2 separate regions of the Homo sapiens genome follow, and region 2 is linked to region 1. A link means that fine-mapping ties the variant in region 1 to the expression of a gene that starts in the linked region. Tissue or cell type: cerebellum. Region 1 holds a variant in brackets; the other region holds the start of a gene. All regions are shown on one strand. Distances are between the middles of the regions.

Region 1 (12,900 bases):
ATAACCCCAAACTTCAGTTTGTGCCTTTATTTTTTTCAACTAAAGCCCCAATGAAACAGTTTGTCTCTTAAGCTCAGCAAGACAGGGTTTTGTGTGAGTCCCCCACTCCCTGCTCCACAATCTGGAAATTGCCTCCAGGCAGAAAGCTCCGCATTCATGGGGTCTACTTCATTTGATTTTCTTCTCTCAGGCATCACAGTCATATGCTTGGATTTGTTCATTATCTGAAAATGGTCATTTTATATTTTGTCCTGTTTTATATAATTATGGTGCAGGAAAGCTAGTTCCATACCAATTACTCCCCTACAGCTAGGGATGGAATAACCTGCTTTATTTTCATCCATTGTGTGATATAAATGTTTCATGTTTCATTCATTATTTGGCCCCTCTTTCTATAGACTGTAACCTCCAGGAGAGCAGAGGCTCCTTTTTTTTCTTTTTTTTTGGAGGTGAGTGTTTGACACTGTCACCCAGGCTGGAGTGCAGTGGCACAATCTTGACTCATTGCAACTTCCACTTCTGGGATGCGAGCAGTTCTCCTGCCTCAGCCACCTGAGTAACTGGGACTACAGGCATCCGCCACTGTGCCCAGCTGAGGCTCTTTTACTGGTGGCTGTTTCCGCAGTTTGATTTAATACACACAGTTTGGTTTAATAAGTGTTTGTTGCATAAGGGAATCTTTATGAGAATCAGAGCCTACTCCGGCAAACAAGCCTTAAAAGCCACATGTTTGCTTTCCTGCCATGCTTTAGGGTTTATGGCCAGGCTGGAGATAGATATGTCACCTTGGATTTACGGTCATGTGGTGGTGACTCAGCAGAGAAATTCTGCTGCAGACAGAAACATCCTGGTCCAGGGAACGCAACCTGCCCCAATGCCATCAGTGGTGTCGTGCTCAGCCCCGTCAGCAGCAACAGTGGTTTTCCTAGGGTCATTCTCTAGCATGATTTTGGTTCTGGTGCAACCACCTAGCGACCGTTATTTCTGCCCGTCTTCCAATTCTGCCCCTTCAGCCTTCCCGGTGATTCTGAGATGCCCAGTACAGCTGGCTCTTTGTGTCACAGATTTTGATATCTACAAGGGGTCCTGGAACCAGTCCCCCTTGGAAATGAAGAGCCTACAGTGTTCTTACAGTAAATTCCTTCTCTGCTGAAGTCATCCAGGGTCAGCCTTTGGTGTTTATAGCTAAGAGCTCTGACTGATAACACTGTTAAAGCTGCTCAAGCCTCTGATTTCCCACTACTTCTCCTGGATTTGTAATAAGAATTTGGTGGGGGCCAAAATCTCAGAAGTCACCACTAAAGAACTTATCCATGTAACCAAAAAACCACCTGTTCCCCAAAAACTATTGAAATTTTTTGAAAAAAATCTGTGTATAAGTGCACCACACAGCTCAGACCTGTGTTCAAGAATCAACGTAAATGCAAGTACAAAAAAGACTGGAAGGAAATATTCAAATATACTAACAGTCCTTTTTATCCTCTTGGTAAGGAGCTTACAGGCAGTTTATAAACTCATACTTTATTCTGCTTTCCAAATTACGTTCCTTAAAATGTGCTGCTTTGATAATTAGAGAATGGAATTTTTGAAATCCCTGAGAACGAAAGACAAAATATGCCAGAAACTTTATTAAAATGATTTGGAGTAGTGTGTCACTGTATACTGTATGTGTATTTTTACATACATATTATTTCCTTTCTGAAAAAGAATTGGAAAAAAATATGGTGAGGGGATGTAAACACAAAAGAAACTTTGCTTCAACTTTGGCAAATTCAAGTTTATTGTCAATACTTTAGATCTTTATATTATGTAGATATTTATGCAAATTAAATGTGGTGTTTAAGAGAGGCTGTGCCTCTAGCTTGCTGCTCTTGTCTCCTAATGCCTTTGCTGACCAAATTAATCAGATTTTATTTTTAACCCTAAGTTAGAAATCTTACTGTATTTTTACTTCATTCTACTGAGAACCATAGGTTGATTATTTTTTTTATTCAAAGTGTTGGCTTTTGTTTGCTGTGCTTTATATATGGAGAAATGCTATTTTTATTTTCCCATTTAGGAGTTTCATAATAGAAGAGCAGAGTTTCTTACTATGTGAAGATCTTCTCTATGGAAGAATGTCATTCAGAGGATTTAATCCTGAGGTTGAGGTATTAAATATAATTGCTTCAAATTAAAAATTTTTCCAATTGAATTTTTTTCTGCTAATAATTGGGCTTAGGTGTTTCTCCACCAGGTACCATTTCTACTCATTATATAGAAAATAACAAGTCTTGAAATATCGCCATAGCTATTTAAAGAAATTGGAGGCATTGCAGTCTAGTTTTATGGTAGAGGTGAGTAGATAATTTCATATAGCAGTATACAGCCCTTGACAGAGCCACCATAAATATTAAAATTTCAAGTTGTGTCTTTTACAGGAACGTCAAGATTTTATTCATATCATGCTATTATGAAAAGTTATTTTCTGGCACCTATACATGTATTTTTTCTAACGGAAAAATGTTACTTTAGAATTATGTCATTTGACTTTTTAATGGACTGTTGTAATCCAAGCTTGTAAGTAGATTTTTAAATGAATCCTTTCGACAGTTTGTTTGAAAAATGAATATTTGCCTTATAACTGAGCTATTCATTTGAATTTTCCTGCTCCAGGATAGAGAAGCAGACCTTTATTTAACAAATATTCATTAGAACTCTGGCTCATATGTTAAAAGCCATCCTATCAAGTACTTGATGAACCAAATGGACACATGAGATATAAATCTTTAGTTTGGTAAATATTACTTGAAGCCAGTGTTTCTTGCCCTTGGCAGTGTTAACATTTGGGGCCAGATAATTCTTTGTGGTGGTGGCTTTCCTAAGAGAATGACGAACCACATCCCTGTCCTCTGTTCTCTACCAACTAAATATCAGTAGCACACACACACCCCACCCTCCTACCCAGCTGTGACAACCAAAAATGTTTCCAGACATTTTCACAGGTTCCCTGGTGGGGAAAATCATCCCCAGTTAAGAACCACTTCTCTAGGAGCCACAGTTAACTAAGCCAATTGCCAGAGTTTATTGAAAGATTCTAGGTTAGTTTTCCTTTTCTTTTTTGGCGGAGTGGGAGGAGGCATGTGTGATAATTAAGGTGTTATGTTAGAAGTGTTTGTTTTTAATATATGCTGGTCTCGCTTTGACTTTCTTTAATTAAGCTTCAGATTGAGAAGGAGAGGGGCTGGGCAGTGGGGTGAAGAGGGAAGAAAAAGGCAGGGATTATGAAGATGTGGTATTCAAAGAGTAGGGTTTGGATAGGCGAGCATTCCAAAGTATGTCTGCTGCAATGGGAAAGGAGAGGTGCCACTGCCCGCAGAAATTGATGGGGGGCAGGGACGGGTGTTAGAAAATGGCCCTAATTACTGGATTCTGAAACACTGAATACACTCCCCCTAGGAAAAGGTTTTAAACTATTATCACTCTTTTAAGCCTTAGAAAAACTAGTTAAGACTGATTTCTCATCTTTTATTCCTTCTCCTCTTGCTAAAAAGAAGAGATTACACATTTAAAAAAAAAAAGGTCAGAGGATAATTATCACAAAAAGGTTTATGTGAAAGAGTTGGAGGAGAGACCCTGTGGTGCATGGATGTTACATGGGATGCATTATCCACTCTAAAGTTTAGGAGGGTAAGGCTGAGGTGCAGATTCCCTCCATTAAACAGGGCCAGCCTTCCACTTCTCCCACCTCCTCCACTCACCACCACCACCACCAAGAGATGCATTTAAAATTATTACTGACGACTAGTGTTTCTTCCATATGGCTTAAAGATGGGTGGGGGAAGTTCAGGGAAAATCTGAAAGTTTATTATTTCTTCCCCCACTCACCGGAATGTGTCAGCAGTATGCCTGCTTTAAATATGAGTAACTAATACTAAGATTTATGATCTTAAATACACTTTAAATTCACCCTAAGTATAATTCAGTGGGGCTTTGCCTTACTATTTTTTTGACTCAGAGCTTACTTCTCTTACACCATTGTGGTATCAAGTATTACAGAGAGTCCCTTATCAATTTTGACTAGTTCTCTAGATTATTTGACTTCAGTTTCTCTGCCTTCAGGTAAGTTTGACATCAGTTCCTTTCACAAGCGTTTTCTAGCCTGAAGGTCAGCACTGGTGTATTTTTCAGAAATTGATGCTTCAGATGAATGCTAAGCACAAAGCAGAAGAAGTTGAAGATGAAACAGTAGAGCTTGATGTGTCAGATGAAGAGATGGCTAGAAGGTAACCGTGCTGCGCAGCAGCCTTCTAATCTGGACCTAGCATTCATTGGCTCTCCCAGGAATGCTCCTCTTACCCCACAGTGCACGGCAGCTTTCAAGGGAGTCCCCCAGTAGGACGATGACTGTGATCGGCCTTCTCTTAATGGCCTACGGGGGCCACAGACCTGTCTCAGGCTGCCAGTTGAGGGCCCATTTCCAGAGCTGCTGGAAATGTGTATTTTAAAATGTACATCTCTATTTATTTAGGGTAATGCAAACACCAAAATGGCAAGGAATTTAATCACTCTTAGAGAAGTTCATAAATTGTTAAATCAGATGGTTTCTTTTAATGATAGTTTTCTTTTTCGTAATCTTTTTTATTGCATATTTGGTCTGATATTCTTGACAAGGCTTGATCCCTACCTTTTTATTTGAAATTAAACGTGTGCTGCCTGTCCTCTTGACAGATATGAGACCTTGGTGGGGACAATTGGGAAAAAGTTTGCCAGAAAGAGAGACCATGCCAATTATGAAGAAGATGAAAATGGAGACATAACACCAATTAAAGCAAAGAAGATGTTCTTAAAGCCCCAGGATTAAGATGGATGCCTTAAGCGATGGCCCAGGGGTGCTTGGTGGAAGTCAGCAGGGCATCTGGAGCTCATCCCAATGGTGTCTCTATAGTTATTAATACTGTAACGTTTACTTGTAAAGAGATTATCATTTTAGAAACATGCTGTTTTTGAAACAGATGTGTGATGGATGTTGTACATCCTTTGCTTCTTGGTATTCATTCAGAGTGGATTTTTAGCCCCTGATCTACAAATGTACATTGTTACAGGGCTGCTTCCTAAAGATTTTTTTTACCTCAGGTTTCTCTTAATATAGTTCTCCAGTCACTGACCTTGAATTGACTTACATAAACTACTGCCAATGTTTAAATTGCCCTTATGTTTATATTTATTATGTCAAGCCAATTCGTACATACAATTTGGAATCAAATGTCATAAGAATTTATTATATAAATTTATCAAGAATAAAAATGCCTCTCCAGCCTTAAGTATTTACATGCTCCCAGGTCATTGTCAGTTTATGGTATTATGTTGTTTTATTTAAAGCATTGAATTGATAGAAAAATTTGCTCTGTAATAAAAATCTACTTTCACATACTTTTTATATTTTCTTGTACTTTCAAATAACAATTTTAGTCTAATTCAGTAATATAACTTTTTTCCAAATAATAACTTTAAAAAACAGCCATTGATCAGAATATAGTGATGTATTAGGTTGAACCATAAGAAATTGCCTTTTACAGGTCAAAAATAACCTTTAGTTTCTTACGGTATAACCCAACAGAATTTACCACTGACCAATGGTACCATCTCCTAGTCTGAACTCTATTCTAAATGCTAAGTACAGAAAGAAGCACATAGAATTAAGTGTGTGTATGTGTGTCTGTCTTTCTGTCTGCAGATAAGTACCTAGGACTTCTGAGAACTACTGATTTAATTTCGCTCCCAGGAAGTGAATGAGGTACATGTCTCCTCTCTCCTCAAATCTCTGTAAGGAAGGTTTTATTGCTCTGTGACCTCAGTTCTCTGGTGAGTTATGAGAAAAGA[T/C]AGGACTTTGAAGTTAATCTGGCCTTTTTTTTTTTTTTCACTGTGAGTATGAGAATGATGCACCTCCCAACTCTGGGAAGTAACGAGTTCTTCCCAGTGCCTTACCAGCACCACAATCCACGGACTTACTACCGGACTTACTACGTGTCTTATGTACCTGTCTGCACAGTCGACTTCTGATTGACAAACTCATTTCACCATAAAAGAAGTGGGGTAATGGGGGCTTATGCCTCTTGAGTGCACTGGTCTTAGCATATCCCCCATCACCCAGGAATAGCGGGCATAATAGGACGATGGAATGGTCTGCTGAAGACACATTTATGGCCCTAGGTGGAATACAACTCCATCTGACAAATGTAACGTGTGCTTTGATTGAGTGACCACTCCATGGGACTGTTCTTGGTCAGAATGCACGGTCTGGAATCAAGCAGAGGTAGATGGAGTGGTCCCACTCATGGGTGATTTGTTTCCTGCTTCTCTTGAGTTCCCAAGGGAGGAGTGCTCCCGCTAGGGGACACAACAATGGCTCCATTGAGACAGGAATTGAGACTATCCAGTCATTTCAGCACTGAACCAACGGGCTGGAGGTTACTGTTTTGGCTGGTGCAAGTGATCCTGGCAACAAAGGGGCATTTATGTCGTTCCTACACAGTGGATGGTGAGAAAGGCATCTGGAACCCAAGGATTCTCTAGGGCATTTTTAGCACTTCCCATGTATGCCACTAACTTCTAAGGGACAGCTATAACAGTCTCAAAGAGGGGAATGATTGAGGTCCTTTAGGGAATGATGTTTTGGTACACCCCACCCCGTATAAATCCTGAGAAGCTGAGCTACTGGCTGAGGGAAGAGGAACCATGGGATGTGTAAGGAAAGAAGGAAATTTATTATTTCAGCCTTATGACTAGCCAGTTACAGAAACAAGTTACTGCAACTGTTACATGGAGGGTTGGCACTCCATATCAGTGAGTTCCAGATATCGACTTGACTAACCACAGAAAGTACTCAAAAAATAAAAATACAATAAAAAATAATATAAAGTACAATACAGTATGACAACTACATAGCATTGACATTGTATTAGGCATCATAAATCATCTAGAGGTAGTCTAAGGGATACAGGAGGATGCACGTAAGTTATATGCAAACATGCTGTCTAAGGTAAGGGGTTTGAGCATCTGTGGATTTTGGTATCTGCAGGAGGTCCTGGAACCAGTCCTTGGATACCCAGGGATGACTGTTTTCTTCTGCGTGTGTGTGTGTGTGTGTGTGTGTGTGTATGTGTGTGTACTAATTTCTTCTCTTACCTCCTTATTTTGTTTTCTTAGGGCGTTAATTTCGCTATTTAGTCGTAGGGTAAGAATATTAGGTGGGTTTGTGATTAATTTTAGGTGTAATTAACTGATAGAATGTCTGCTGGGACTTTGTGTCTCCTCATTTTGGAGAAAGGCTGAGGGTATCTTGTACAAAGGATGTTTGCAGTGTATTCGGTAGAAACAGTTGTTTTCCTTGTTGCAGGAAGTTTAGGTTAGAAGTCTGTGGATGCTAAATGGCCGAAAGGGCAGGTTGTGGCAGATTCAAAGCTGTTGCTTCACAGAATCAAACTCACCCTCTGTATTCAGCTTTTAGTGCCGGGCTGGGACTGAGCAAACCCCATGTCTCCTATGCAGCTGACTTAATTAGGATCAGCCAGTGGAGGCCCAGCTGGAGATGGCGAGGCTAGAGGAAGAAGACAGGATGTGTCCCTTCTCTCTGCTTCCTCTTCTTTTCCTATTTCTTTGTCACCCTCAAAACACCTGCACCCCAGCAGAGGCTGGTATTCCAGGAAGAGTTGTTAATATGAGTTTAGTCTTCCCAACACTTGCTGCAACAGCCTCATAGCAACTCCTCAGAGACATCACCAGCACCAACCACCCTGTATTCATTCCGACATCTGTCCAGCGCCTTGGCCACAGGGTTCCCCCACCCAACCCAGAGACACTGATATTAGCAGAATAACAACTTAATGTCAGAGGTCTGAGTTTTGGCTCTTTGGGGCCCCTCCCAAGTTTCAAAAATTGAACAATTTCCCTCTCTTCCCTAGGAGTCGCAGCTTCCTGCATGATACCTCAGTGTTTTCCTTTTGCCTCGTTTAGTTCTTTAATACCCAATTAACAATTCTTAATATTTAATTTCCTCTGTTAAAATAAGGGTGGCTTTTAATCTCCTGACTAGATTTTAACTGTTACCGACATCCTAAAGCAATAATATCTGAAATCATGGGTTTGCTAAGCTTAAAATGCTAATTTTTCTAATCTGCATTCAAGCGTATAATGATTAAAGTTGAAATGTTTATCTATCTACAACTTCCTGGAAGTTATCTCATGAATCCAGGAATTAGTATGCACTTTTTAAAAAACACTGCCTCTGTATTTTTTTTTTTTTTAAGTTTGAGTCAACTTTATTTTTTTTAATTTTTTTATTTTTTTATTATACTTTAAGTTTTAGGGTACATGTGCACATTGTGCAGGTTAGTTACATATGTATACATATGCCATGCTAGTGCGCTGCACCCACTAAATCGTCATCTAGCATTAGGTATATCTCCCAATGCTATCCCTCCCCCCTCCCCCCACCCCACCACAGTCCCCAGAGTGTGATGTTCCCCTTCCTGTGTCCATGTGATCTCATTGTTCAATTCCCACCTATGAGTGAGAATATGTGGTGTTTGGTTTTTTGTTCTTGCAATAGTTTACTGAGAATGATGATTTCCAATTTCATCCATGTCCCTACAAAGGACATGAACTCATCATTTTTTATGGCTGCATAGTATTCCATGGTGTATATGTGCCACATTTTCTTAATCCAATCTATCATTGTTGGACATTTGGGTTGGTTCCAAGTCTTTGCTATTGTGAATAATGCCGCAATAAACATACGTGTGCATGTGTCTTTATAGCAACATGATTTATAGTCCTTTGGGTATATACCCAGTAATGGGATGGCTGGGTCAAATGGTATTTCTAGTTCTAGATCCCTGAGGAATCGCCACACTGACTTCCACAATGGTTGAACTAGTTTACAGTCCCACCAACAGTGTAAAAGTGTTCCTATTTCTCCACATCCTCTCCAGCACCTGTTGTTTCCTGACTTTTTAATGATTGCCATTCTAACTGGTGTGAGATGGTATCTCATTGTGGTTTTGATTTGCATTTCTCTGATGGCCACTGATGACGAGCATTTTTTCATGTGTTTTTTGGCTGCATAAATGTCTTCTTTTGAGAAGTGTCTGTTCATGTCCTTCACCCACTTTTTGATGGGGTTGTTTGTTTTTTTCTTGTAAATTTGTTTGAGTTCATTGTAGATTCTGGATATTAGCCCTTTGTCAGATGAGTAGGTTGTGAAAATTTTCTCCCATTCTGTAGGTTGCCTATTCACTCTGATGGTAGTTTCTTTTGCTGTGCAGAAGCTCTTTAGTTTAATTAGATCCCATTTGTCAATTTTGGCTTTTGTTGCCATTGCTTTTGGTGTTTTGGACATGAAGTCCTTGCCCATGCCTATGTCCTGAATGGTAATGCCTAGGTTTTCTTCTAGGGTTTTTATGGTTTTAGGTCTAACGTTTAAATCTTTAATCCATCTTGAATTGATTTTTGTATAAGGTGTAAGGAAGGGATCCAGTTTCAGCTTTCTACATATGGCTAGCCAGTTTTCCCAGCACCATTTATTAAATAGGGAATCCTTTCCCCATTGCTTGTTTTTCTCAGGTTTCTCCAAGATCAGATAGTTGTAGATATGCGGCGTTATTTTCGAGGGCTCTGTTCTGTTCCATTGACCTATATCTCTGTTTTGGTACCAGTACCATGCTGTTTTGGTTACTGTAGCCTTGTAGTATAGTTTGAAGTCAGGTAGCGTGATGCCTCCAGCTTTGTTCTTTTGGCTTAGGATTGCCTTGGTGATGCAGGCTCTTTTTTGGTTCCATATGAACTTGAAAGTAGTTTTTTCCAATTCTGTGAAGAAAGTCATTGGTAGCTTGATGGGGATGGCATTGAATCTGTAAATTACCTTGGGCAGTATGGCCATTTTCACGATATTGATTCTTCCTACCCATGAGCATGGAATGTTCTTCCATTTGTATCCTCTTTTATTTCCTTGAGCAGTGGTTTGTAGTTTTCCTTGAAGAGGTCCTTCGCATCCCTTGTAAGTTGGATTCCTAGGTATTTTATTGTCTTTGAAGCAATTGTGAATGGGAGTTCACTCACGATTTGGCTCTCTGTTTGTCTGTTGTTGGTGTATAAGAATGCTTGTGATTTTTCTACATTGATTTTGTATCTTGAGACTTTGCTGAAGTTGCTTATGAGCTTAAGGAGATTTTGGGCTGAGACAATGGGGTTTTCTAGATATACAATCATGTCATCTGCAAACAGGGACAATTTGACTTCCTCTTTTCCTAATTGAATACCCTTTATTTCCTTCTCCTGCCTAATTGCCCTGGCCAGAACCTCCAACACTATGTTGAATAGGAGTGCTGAGAGAGGGCATCCCTGTCTTGTGCCCGTTTTCAAAGGGAATGCTTCCAGTTTTTGCCCATTCAGTATGATATTGGCTGTGGGTTTGTCATAGCTCTCATTATTTTGAAATACGTCCCATCAATACTTAATTTACTGAGAATTTTTAGCATGAAGGGTTGTTGAATTTTGTCAAAGGCTTTTTCTGCATCTATTGAGATAATCATGTGGTTTTTGTCTTTGGCTCTGTTTATATGCTGGATTACATTTATTGATTTGCGTATATTGAACCAGCCTTGCATCCCAGGGATGAAGCCCACTTGATCATGGTGAATAAGCTTTTTGATGTGCTGCTGGATTCGTTTTGCCAGTATTTTATTGAGGATTTTTGCATCAATGTTCATCAAGGATATTGGTCTAAAATTCTCTTTTTTGGTTGTGTCTCTGCCCGGCTTTGGTATCAGGATGATGCTGGCCTCATAAAATGAGTTAGGGAGGATTCCCTCTTTTTCTATTGATTGGAATAGTTTCAGAAGGAATGGTACCAGTTCCTCCTTGTACCTCTGGTAGAATTCGGCTGTGAATCCGTCTGGTCCTGGACTCTTTTTGGTTGGTAAGCTATTGATTATTGCCACAATTTCAGATCCTGTTATTGGTCTATTCAGAGATTCAACTTCTTCCTGGTTTAGTCTTGGGAGAGTGTATGTGTCGAGGAATTTATCCATTTCTTCTAGATTTTCTAGTTTATTTGCGTAGAGGTGTTTGTAGCATTCTCTGATGGTAGTTTGTATTTCTGTGGGATCGGTGGTGATATCCCCTTTATCATTTTTTATTGTGTCTATTTGATTCTTCTATCTTTTTTTCTTTATTAGTCTTGCTAGTGGTCTATCAATTTTGTTGATCCTTTCAAAAAACCAGCTCCTGGATTCATTAATTTTTTGAAGGGTTTTTTGTGTCTCTATTTCCTTCAGTTCTGCTCTGATTTTAGTTATTTCTTGCCTTCTGCTAGCTTTTGAATGTGTTTGCTCTTGCTTTTCTAGTTCTTTTAATTGTGATGTTAGGGTGTCAATTTTGGATCTTTCCTGCTTTCTCTTGTGGGCATTTAGTGCTATAAATTTCCCTCTACACACTGCTTTGAATGCGTCCCAGAGATTCTGGTATGTTGTGTCTTTGTTCTCATTGGTTTCAAAGAACATCTTTATTTCTGCCTTCATTTTGTTAGGTATCCAGTAGTCATTCAGAAGCAGGATGTTCAGTTTCCATGTAGTTGAGCGGTTTTGAGTGAGATTCTTAATCCTGAGTTCTAGTTTGATTGCACTGTGGTCTGAGAGATAGTTTGTTATAATCTCTGTTCTTTTACATTTGCTGAGGAGAGCTTTACTTCCAAGTATGTGGTCAATTTTGGAATAGGTGTGGTGTGGTGCTGAAAAAAATGTATATTCTGTTGATTTGGGGTGGAGAGTTCTGTAGATGTCTATTAGGTCTGCTTGGTGCAGAGCTGAGTTCAATTCCTGGGTATCCTTGTTGACTTTCTGTCTCGTTGATCTGTCTAATGTTGACAGTGGGGTGTTAAAGTCTCCCATTATTAATGTGTGGGAGTCTAAGTCTCTTTGTAGGTCACTCAGGACTTGCTTTATGAATCTGGGTGCTCCTGTATTGGGTGCATATATATTTAGGATAATTAGCTCTTCTTGTTGAATTGATCCCTTTACCATTATGTAATGGCCTTCTTTGTCTCTTTTGATCTTTGTTGGTTTAAAGTCTGTTTTATCAGAGACTAGGATGGCAACCCCTGCCTTTTTTTGTTTTCCATTTGCTTGGTAGATCTTCCTCCATCCTTTTATTTTGAGCCTATGTGTGTCTCTGCACTTGAGATGGGTTTCCTGAATACAGCACACTGATGGGTCTTGACTCTTTATCCAATTTGCCAGTCTGTGTCTTTTAATTGGAGCATTTAGTCCATTTACATTTAAAGTTAATATTGTTATGTGTGAATTTGATCCTGTCATTATGATGTTAGCTGGTGATTTTGCTCGTTAGTTGATGCAGTTTCTTCCTAGTCTCGATGGTCTTTACATTTTGGCTTGATTTTGCAGCGGTTGTTCCTTTCCATGTTTAGCGCTTCCTTCAGGAGCTCTTGTAGGGCAGGCCTGGTGGTGACAAAATCTCTCAGCATTTGCTTGTCTGTAAAGTATTTTATTTCTCCCTCATTTATGAAGCTTAGTTTGGCTGGATATGAAATTCTGGGTTGAAAATTCTTTTCTTTAAGAATGCTGAATATTGGCCCCCACTCTCTTCTGGCTTGTAGGGTTTCTCCCGAGAGATCCGCTGTTAGTTTGATGGGATTCCCTTTGAGGGTAATCCGACCTTTCTCTCTGGCTGCCCTTAACATTTTTTTCCTTCATTTCAACTTTGGTGAATCTGACAATTATGTGTCTTGGAGTTGCTCTTCTCGAGGAGTATCTTTGTGGCGTTCTCTGTATTTCCTGAAACTGAACGTTGGCCTGCCTTGCTAGATTGGGGAAGTTCTCCTGGATAATATCCTGCAGAGTGTTT
Region 2 (10,450 bases), 21 kb before region 1:
TTAACACATTATTGATTGTGAGATCTATCCTCTGTGCTCTGCAATTCAGGTGCATAGAAAGATCAAGGAATTATCTTGTCAGGTAGTTTTCAAAGTTAAAATTACACTATTACTCTTAAATCACTTCTCATTTATAACATGTTGAGGGGTGGGAAAAGACTTGGGGGATTCATTTTAATTATAAGGATTTTCACCATCAAATAGAAAAATAGAATTTTGAGTGGCAGGTTGAAGAAGGTGAGCTTTATCTCTCAGACAATAACAGATATTGTAAATTTTAGAGTGAAAGAATAACATAATAATGTCAATGTTTCAGAAAAACAAATCAGAACACAGACTGGTACAACAGGGGTCCATAGAGAAGGTGTGGCGCTTCCAGCATCCTTACATGATAGATATATGCTCTTATTTCGCCGGGAATGCTGTTTTCCTCTTCTGAAGCTGACAAGACATGTGTTCATCCTAGTTCAGTCGCCCCTTAGTTTCCCAAGTGCAGAAGGCAGACTGAGTCACTTCTCCCTTCACCTCTACTCTCACAGCAGTTCTTTGAGAATCCCACAGAAAAACCAAACTTATAGAGACAGAAAGTAGTCGTGAGGACCTGAGGAATTAGTGTTTAATGGGAACAAGAGTTTTCATTTTGCAAGATGAAGAGTCCTATGGTGGTAAAAGCAGCATAACAATGTGAATGATTGGTGGGCCTTTTCCCTGATTAACTCCTCTCTACGTTTAGGAGAGTCCTCATTTCCAGGCCAGAATGGTTTAGGTACCCTCGTTGTACCCTTTCATGACCCTCAAACTTTCCTTACCGGGCTCTCATCACAACTGTCATCTACAGCTAATTGTATGGTATATTAGTCTGCTACGGTTACTATAAGAAAACACTACACACTGGGTGCCCTATACAGACTGGTTGTGATTTTCTCACAGTGCTGGAGGCTAGAGGTCTAAGATCAAGGTGTTGGCAGGTTTGGTTTCTCCTGAGAGATTTTTTAAATTTTTTTTATTTTTTTGGCTTTCAGATAGTCTTTCCTTTATGCAAACACAACCTTGGTGTCTGTGTCCAAATTTCCTCTTCTTATGACGACATCAGTCAGACTGGATTAGGGCTCACCCTAAGGGTCTTGTTTTAATCACCTCTTTAAAAAGGACTGTCTCCAAATACATTCACATTCTGAGGCACTGGGAGTTGGAACTTCAACATATGAATTTTGGGGGATGCAATGTGGCTTATGATTAACCTCTACTGTTTCCACTTGTAAAACTTTTAACACGGACTTTGTCTTGTTCATATCTGAGGACCTTTACAGTTGATGCTGTCTTCTGAGCACACTCTACCTCCAACTCTTCATAAAACACGTTTTTCTCAACTTTCAAGCCTTAGCACCATCATCTGACAAGGGCCGTTCCAAACCACCTGGTCTAAAGTAACCCTAAGCGTTACTCTGTCACATCACTGTTTTCTCTCTTTCATAGCAGTCGCCACTTACTTACGTCCAGAATATCAGCTTCAGGAAAGGTGGGGATATGTGTTTTTACACGCTATTATACCCCCGGCATCTCACACACAGTCACAAGTGAATGAGATTCTGTAGCCACTTGGTACATTACAATGATTTTATTTACCCCTGGGAAAACCTAAAGGGCTTTTAACATCCAAATCGGTGTTTGAATTTCAGCTCTAACATGGATTAGCTGTGTGAACACCAAGTGCGTTACCCACTCTGTGTCTCAGAATCCTTAACAACACGATGACAATACCTTCTTTCCGGTTCTTATGGGGATTAAGTGAACTAATTAGCCCTAAGGTGACCAGGTCAACAATCTGACGTAGAACTCATGGTATCAGCCGAGATGCTATTAGCTTGAGGGTGTTCCAAAGCGTCGGACCTGGGAATGGTTTTCGAAAACGTGTTTAGGTGGTACCCAGAGCATTAAACACCAGGGTAGGAACGCTACCCTATTTTCAGTGGTTTTTTAAATTCTTTTTTGTTTTGTTGTTTTGTTTTTGAGACAAAGCCTCACTCTGTAGCCCAGACTGGAGTCCAGTGGCGGGATGTCAGCTCACTGCAGCCTCGACGTCCCGGGTTCCAGTGATTCTCCAGCCTCAGCCTCCCAAGTAGTGGAGACCACAGATCCGTGCCACCACACCCAGCTATTTTTGTTGTATCTTTTGTACATTTTTTGTATATTTTGTATATATTTTTTGTATGTATATTTTGTATATTTTTTGTGTATATATATATATATATATATATATATTTTTTTTTTTTTTTTTTTTTTTTTTTTTTTTGTAGAGGTGGGGTCTCCCTATGTTGCCCCTCGCTATGGTCTTTTCAATTCTTTGGATCAAAACCAGGCTTTGTTCTCATTCATGTGTCTTTGGCACCCATCCCTGCCTCCATCCCTTGCCATTTCTTGAGATTCTTCTGTTTAGCAGAGATCACTCGGCCAGACACGCATCGGCAGCAGCCTGGGAATGAAGCCAGCCTGCCTGGGGCGGCCCCCGCCGCGCTCCCCCGGGACTCCGGGCTGCTGTGAGGAAAGCAGCAACTCGTGGGGTCCTGGTGAAGAGAAAACGACCTGGACCCTGCAAAGCGACCCAGAACAAAGGGAGCCCGCCACCCACGTTATGAAGACAAAACACGTGGGTAACACGGCCCAGGCGGGTGGCAGGCGTGGCGGAAACCTCTCTGAGGCTGGCGAGGACTACTGAGTGTGGAGGGGGTCCCTGAGGAAGGGAGTCCCCGAGGGAGGATGGGCCTCCGAGGGGGCCAGGCCGACGTCCCGGGAAGGCGACCCGCGGCTCGGGGAAGCCAAGTTCTGGGTCGTCCTCTGACTTCGGCTTTTTTGCGGTCTGCCGCGCTCATCCCCGCGCCCGCCACCCCGCGAGCTTACCCGAGCCTCTCAGTCAGCAGAGCGCCCGCTGAGTGGCCGCGCCCGCGCGCAAGACACAGGGGAGGGGCGGGGCGGGGCGGCGCGCACTACGCGAGGGACGCAGCTGCGCACGCGGCTCCGCGCATGTGCGGTGAGGCTCGCGGCCGGAGTGCGGCGCTGGGCGGAAGCTACCATGGCGGCCGAGCGAAAGACAAGGTTGTCCAAGAATCTACTGCGCATGAAGGTGCGGGGACGCTGAGAGCGCCACTCCGGGCGGTAGGGGCACCCGGTCCTTCCAACCTGGCCGGGGCCGAGGCGGCGGGCGGACAAGGGACACCAGAGAGGCCTCAGAGGGCTTCCAGCTCTCGTGCTCATTCATTCACTTAGCGCCTGCTCTGCACTGTTTACTGGGAACCAGCTTACGAATTAGGCCGACTCTCTCAGGAGGCCCGCGGGCGGATGGGAGCTTGAGTACACAGAAGCAGTCAGGGTACAGCTTACCCAGTGCAGTGAGGGTAGAAGCGCTGGGGACCTTGGGGACTCACCGAGCTTCTCGAGAAGTTGTTGCTTACTTATATATGCAATAAATATGATATATGGGAAGTGTAACTCCTTAGCTGGGTAATTTAGGTAAATTCACTTCTTTCTCTGAATATCTCTTTTCCTCATCTTTAAAAAGAAGAGCATTAGGCTACATGAGTTCAAGCTCCTTTTTAATTTTGATAATACTTCTTTTAGTAGAGTTCTTCAGAGAAACAGAATCAACAAGATGTATATGTGTATATATGTGTATGGAGAGAGGGGGTATTTTTAAAACTGGATCACACGACTGTGGAGATGCAAGTCTAAAATCTGCAGGGTGGGCCAGTAGGCTGGAGACCCAGAGAAGTACTCAGTCCAAGTCCAAAGACAGTCTGCTGGCAGAACTCCCTCTTCTTCCAGGGAGAAGAGGGTGAGTCTCGCAGGGTAGTCTCTAGGTTACTGGGAGGGTGGAAGGCACAGCGTCCTAAACTAGGAGAAACTGAGTTCAGAAGTCTGAGAGGCAAGAAAGAAAAAGAAAACCATGGAAATTTCCAAGAATTAGAGACAATTCAGTATGTCTGGAAGGCAAGTACTAAGAAATGGGGTTGCAGAGTAGGCAATGGTCACAACGTGCAGGGAATTTGAGGCCAGATTAAAGATATTTTCCTTTATTTTGTGAGCAATGGAAAGCTATTGAAACGGGGAACAGTATCAAGAAAATGGCAAATATTTATAGTACTAGACAATGATTGAAGTGGTTTGCGTATATTAACCTATGCAATTCACATAATGACACTTTGAGGTGACTACAGGCAGTAACTCTCTTCTTACAGCTAAGGCAACTGAAACAGAAATAAGTAATTTACCCAAAGTTACACAGCTAATAAGTAGTGTAGACAGGACGGGAATTCAGGCAGTCTGGCTCCAGAACCCTGGCTCTTTATTACTACTCTGTACTCTGTGATGCCTGTCACTAAGCACTACTTCTAGAGAGTAGCAAACTGTTACATGTCATGTTTAAAGAGGTGGAATTTCCAAAAGAGGGAAGGAAGCATTCATAATGTTTTGAAAGATAGGCCATTCGCAGTGGCTCATGCCTGTAGTCCCAGCACTTTGAGAGGCTGAGGTAGACAAATCGCTTAAGCCCAGGTGTTTGAGACCATCCTGGGCAACATGGTGAAACCCCATCTCTACAAAAAATACAAAATATTAGCCAGGCCTAGTGGCACGCACCTTTAGTCCCAGCTACTTGGGAGGCTGAGGTGGGAGGATCACTTGAGCTTGGGAGATCAAGGCTGCAGTGAGCTGAGATGGCGCCACTGCACTCCAGCCTTGGTGACACAGGGAGACCCTGTCTCAAAAAAAAAAAAAAAAGAGAGAGAGTAAACATTATATGGGCAAGATTTGAATGGAGTTGAGCTAGGATGGAGTTAGGGATGAATGGGTGAATGAGGGTGGAGGACAAATTGCAGCATAACTTAGAGTTTGTCAAGCACTTTCATGCATATTAGCAAAATTTGAATCTTTACTGAACAGAGTTTGATTTTATGGTTGGTAATAACATTAACTTCAGAGAAGTGGAGTGAATTGGCCAAGCAGATATTGGAAAGATTTTAGCAGTTGTTTTAGCTCTTGGAATAAGCCAGATGATGTACTGGGTGACTCAGGCTCAAACTAAATATCCGAGTTGCAACTAAGAAGAAAGAAATTAACTTAAATGTCCACCCCCACCAAATGGGGAGACTCAACTGGACGTTGGAAGCAAAGGAGAAGGAAAAAGATCACCCACATTCTCTATTTGGTTTAGCAGCTTTGGTCATTGATAAGAAAAAACTTACTGGCAAGATAGCAGGAGACACTGTCTATACTGATAGAACAGAGTATACTGTGAGAAGGCATGGAGTAGCTGCACTTAGGGTGCCTTAACCAGAGCTAAGTCCTATATAGCATGGGTCCCCAACCGCCAGGCCATGGACCAGCACCAGTCCATGACCTGTAAGGAACAGGCTGCACAGCAGGAAGTGAGCAGCGGGCAGGCAAGCGAGCGAAACTTCATCTGTATTTACAGCTGTTCCCCATAGCTTGCATTACCACCTGAGCTCCGCCTCCTGTCAGATCAGTGGCAGAATCCTAGATTCTCCTAGGATCAGAAACCCTACTGTGAACTGTGCATATGAGGGATCTACCTTGCGCTCTACTTACGAGAATCTAATGCCTGATGATCTGTCATTGTCTCCCATCACACCCAGATGGGACTGTCTAGTTTCAGGAAAACAAGCTCAGGTCTTCCACTGATTCTTCATTGTGGTGAGTTGTATAATTATTTCATGACATATTATAATATAATAATAGAAACAAAGTGCACAATAAATGTAATGCACTTGAATCATCCCTAAACCATCTACCCTTCCCCTCTCCACCACCCGTGGAAAAATTGTCTTCCAGGAAGCCCATCCCTGGTGCCAAAAAGGTTGGGGACCACTTTTTAGGCAAGTATAAGAGGGTTGAGGATTTAATCCTGACTCACTTCAATGCCTCTGACTTGGTCAGCCATTGCAGGGTGATCCTAATGGGAAGAAGAAAAAGAAGGATGTGGATGGAAGGTCTTCCAGTATGGAATGGTTGTAGAGGGTGCTTATTTGTGATTTTGGCACTGTTAGACTCTCAGAACAGGGCTTGGCAAACTTTCTGTAAAGGACCATATGATAAATATTTTGGTCTTATGAGCCAGACAGTCTCTGTTACAACTACTCAGCTCTGCCAGTGTTGTTCAAGACCGAATGACCATGGTTGTGTACCAGTAAAACTTTATCGACGACAACAGACATCTAGCCTGAGGACTGTATTATGCTGATGCCTGCTCTGAGTCCTCACTAGTTTTGGAATGTGTTCTGAAATGCTCTAGAGTAGGAGAATCGAACTTGTACCTAAGTCTGGAGGTGCTTGATTCATATTCACAGGGAGTTCTGTCCTTTCTATGTGTACAGAACATATGTATATGGCTGTTGTATACCAAAAGAATAGGTACATGACTAAATGGGAGAAAAAAGGGCAGTTGGGCAGTATTGATGAGTTTTACCACGAGGAATATTAGTGATGAAATGAGGCATCTGCATTTAAAGAAAACCATCCCAGAAAGAGAATCTGGAAAAATAAGATAGGTCTAGGTTCATTTCCATTCAGAGAACTTTCACTGAGTGAGCTCTTTTGTGTACCAGGGGTGCCGCCTAAGTACCAATGATACAAGATGAACAAGAGTCATGGTCTATTCAGAATCGTAGTCCTGGGAGACACCAAAGCAGCACGATGGTGAACAATATTCCAGTGTTGATGAGGCTGTCTTGAGAATGTGCTTCTTTATAGGAGCAGACCTAGGAAGAGCCAAGCCAAATGCCAACCAGGAAGTCTTACCAAAGGACACACACTGTAGGCTTAAAAGAGTAAATATTTTGCCAGGCAGAAAATGGAAACGTGTTAAGTCGCAAAGGCAAAAGGACTGGGAAGTATAGCGTGCACATTCCAGAAACTGCAGTTCTTTCCTGGGATGAGGATGTACACACAGGTAAAATGGATGACGACTGCAAAACACTAGTCTGCAAACTTGTTTTCTTTTACTTTTTACTTAAAATAGTGATAGATTCACAGGAAGTTGCAAAAAGTGTACAGGGATATCCCGTGCGTCCTTCATGCCACCTCCCCTAGCGGCAACATTTTACAACACTAGGATATGATAAAGAGCCAGGACATTGACAGTGAGCTGACGCAGATTTCACCATTTTACACGCACTCATTTTGCGTGGACGGTTGCTGGGTCATATGGTAAGTGTATGTTTAGTTTGCTAAGAAACTGCCATGCTGTTTTCCACAGTGGCTGTACCATTTACTTTCCCACCAGCTATGTTTGAGTGATCAGTTTCTTCACATTCTCTTCAGCACTTGATGTTATCACCATCATGTGTTACTTAACACATGATTTAACAACAGGGATACGTTCTGAAACATGCATTGTTAGGTGATTTCATCATTGTGAGAGCATCATAGGGTTCATCTACGCAAACCTGGATGGTATAGCCTACCACACACTTAGGCTATATGGTACAGCCTGTTGTTCGTAGGCTGCAAACCTATACAGCATGCTACTGTACTGAATACTGTAGGCAGTTGTAACACAGTGGTGTCTGTGTATCTAAACATATCTAGATATAGAAAAGGTACAATAAAAATGCAGCATTGTAATCTTATGGGACCACTGTCATATATGGGTTCCATCGTCGACCAAACATCATTTTGCAGTGCATGACTATTTTATTCGTGAACGTTAAGGTTTTTTCATTTAACTTAGTAGTCATTGTTAAAGTGCTTATGCCTAAAAAGGCTTATGTTTGGAAAAGGTGGAATAGAAGGAGGAGAAATATGGGACCTGGGCCGGGCGCAGCGGCTCACACCTGTAATCCCAGCACTTTGGGAGGCCGAGGCGGGTGGATCACAAAGTCAGGAGTTTGAGACCAGCCTGGCCAAAGTGGTGAACCCCCGTCTCTACTAAAAACAGAAAAATTAGCTGGGTGTGGTGGCAGGCGCGTAATCTCAGCTACTCGAGAAGCTGAGGCAGGAGAACCTCTTGAACCTAGGAGGCAGAGGTTGCAGTGAGCTGAGATCGTGCCACTACACTCCAGCCTGGGCGACAGAGTGAGACTCTGTCTCAAAAAAAAAAAATAAAAAAAAAAATAAAAAAGAAATATCGGACCTGAATAAGGGAAAGAAATGGGGGATACATAGAAACCAGTGGAAGCTGAAACCTAACTGCTAGGAGGCTTCTGGGTATTTTCTGATTTTATTTTCTCCAGTGTTGATATTTTATCTTGTTGCTGTGGTTAGCCTCTTAAGTTTGTTCACTTGTTCCCTGAAGAAATACAGGTATTCATGCTAGTGAGAGACTGGCAGCAGGACTGTTATTTACTGCCATATTTTGAGTCAACTTTCTGCAGATTTGATAAGAGCAGCTCAAGAGTTTAGCAGCATTTCAGAGGAAAAATAAAAACGAAGAGCAGACTTATAGATGTACCTTTGCTTCTGCCTACATTTATCGGGCTCTTACTGTGCTTCAGTCATCATATTGGGACAGATGAAGGAGATGACCCAGACACCCAGTCCTTAAGGTCTCCAGAAAAGATAGATGCTCAGAAAGTTCAGATGTGGTGAGTCTATTGGAGGGAGCCATGGAAGCATTTAGGACAGAGGCACTGATTTTACTGGCACTCATAGAAGTCTAGTAGCTTTACCTATGTCAGACGGGCGAGGAGTTGGCCAGGTGGAAGAGGATAAGAAGGGCATTTCAACCCCAGATCAGCAGGTGCCAAAGCCAGTGGGCTCTGTGGGTGAGCACAAGACCTTCGAATGTGGTGTCTTAGCCCTTAAGTTTTCCGAAGGAAATATACATTGTGCATTTTCTCATGCCCTGACACAAGCCCTCATCGTCTAGTGTAAAGTTGGAAGGGTAGAGCTAAACCGTTTGATCACTTGCCCCAACCCTCAATCTTGAGATGGGTTCCATAGATAAATGAAGGAGAACAAGTAGAAGAAGAAAATTATTTGGGGTTTCCTCAGTTCTAAAATGGGAAAAGTTTCTGACATTGATTTTGTTTGTTTTCACAGTTTATGCAAAGGGGACTGGACTCAGAAACCAAGAAACAACTAGAAGAAGAAGAAAAGAAAATCATTAGTGAAGAGCACTGGTACTTGGATTTGCCAGAGCTTAAAGAGAAAGAGTAGGTTTATTAAAATTGATACTGATGATGCTTGTGGCATTCAGAAGGAAACTCCTGGTAAATTTAACTCATCATTCCGGTGACATAAAGCCCATGAAATTGTTTCTGTTCAGTTTATTGATTTAGTAGCACAACTAAAAAATATTAAACCTATAGAAGTTGTACATGGATTTATACATTTTTACTACTCCCCCTCCCAGCCACTATTTTGTCCTTTTTTACATTGAATGAAGGAACCTAGCCCACATATCTCTGATAGTAACAGCAGACCTTTGGGGAAGCTGTAATGTTCTCTCTATCACCTTAAGTTCTAAAGATTAGGGGTGTACTTCAGGTCTCTCCAGTTTTGTTTCGGTTACAGAGTTCATTAGGTTGAGCATTTTAAGGCAGGTCAGAAGTTTTTGTTTCTTCTTTTAAATTGTTACTACTTGTAATACCATCCATTTTAGCTAACATTTACTGAATCTATAGTGTGTACCAGGAACTGGGCTAAACACTTTACATCTGTAGTTATTGAATCTTCGTAGCAAACTTAGGAACTGCCTCCTATGATTCTGTCACTTTGTAGTTGAGGAACTGAGCTTAAGGGAGGGTAACTTGCCCAGCTTCACCCAGCTAGTCAGTGCTGAAGGCTGGGGTAGACAGTTTCTGGCCCACCCCTAAGCTTGGCTGGTGCCTGATCAACAATTTTGAATGAAGGAGTGTTGGATTTATTTCATCCATTAATTTAGCTGAATCCTTCTGGAAGCTATTTTTCATTTTTCCCTGATACTTTCCTCACCTTAGTAAGCTCTGTTGTATGGTAGTTTTACTTAAACTTTGGTCAAATGACTGAAGATGCTGCTTACTGTCTTGAGGCACATTTATGTGTTTCCATTCTGTACCTGATGTTTGGGCTTTGATTTGGAATGTTATATTCCCCTGTTCATTTGGCTGACCTCTGGACATTGTTTGAAGGTTAGATACCCTTCTCTAAAGATAGAAAGTATGTCCCACCAGGAGGGATCGGGAGAAGGTACTTTTTTTCTCTGCTTCTCAGAGGAAGCAAGATGTTGGTGAGGAGGGAGAAGATAGTGCCAGGGGCAGGGTCACAGGGAGGAAGGGACCTTTGCTGCTGGAGCTATAATTTACTTTTATGCCTTAAGTAAACTTGCCAAAGTGTTCCTTCCAGTTGTTTATTAAAGAGCAGGACTGTTTCTATCTTGTTTCCAGTATTTTTCCCCTAATACAGCATATTATTCCCAGAAAATGACCTTTACATTTCTTTCTGGGAAGGTAAATAATGC

Evidence for each region.
Region 2: it holds the start of MPHOSPH6, and the variant in region 1 is fine-mapped to the expression of MPHOSPH6 in cerebellum (GTEx, PIP above 0.99).

The regions. Positions count from the first base shown.
Region 1 is chr16:82,140,674-82,153,573 of GRCh38, reverse strand. MPHOSPH6 (M-phase phosphoprotein 6) reads left to right here. Exons shown (of 5, transcript NM_005792.2): 3 at 2,060-2,150; 4 at 4,171-4,265; 5 at 4,711-5,412. The coding sequence ends at 4,843. Among named protein-coding and RNA genes, the nearest start is that of MPHOSPH6, 23 kb to the left of the region's middle. RefSeq lists enhancers at 696-990, 1,787-1,931 and a cis regulatory region at 1,859. The variant T/C (reference allele first, on the strand shown) is at 5,863.
Region 2 is chr16:82,162,796-82,173,245 of GRCh38, reverse strand. It overlaps MPHOSPH6 (M-phase phosphoprotein 6), which reads left to right and starts at 3,022. Exons shown (of 5, transcript NM_005792.2): 1 at 3,022-3,121; 2 at 9,052-9,164. The coding sequence starts at 3,071. RefSeq lists a silencer at 2,887-3,046, cis regulatory regions at 3,093, 7,253, 7,390, 10,043 and enhancers at 3,021-3,165, 7,181-7,325, 7,318-7,462, 9,971-10,115.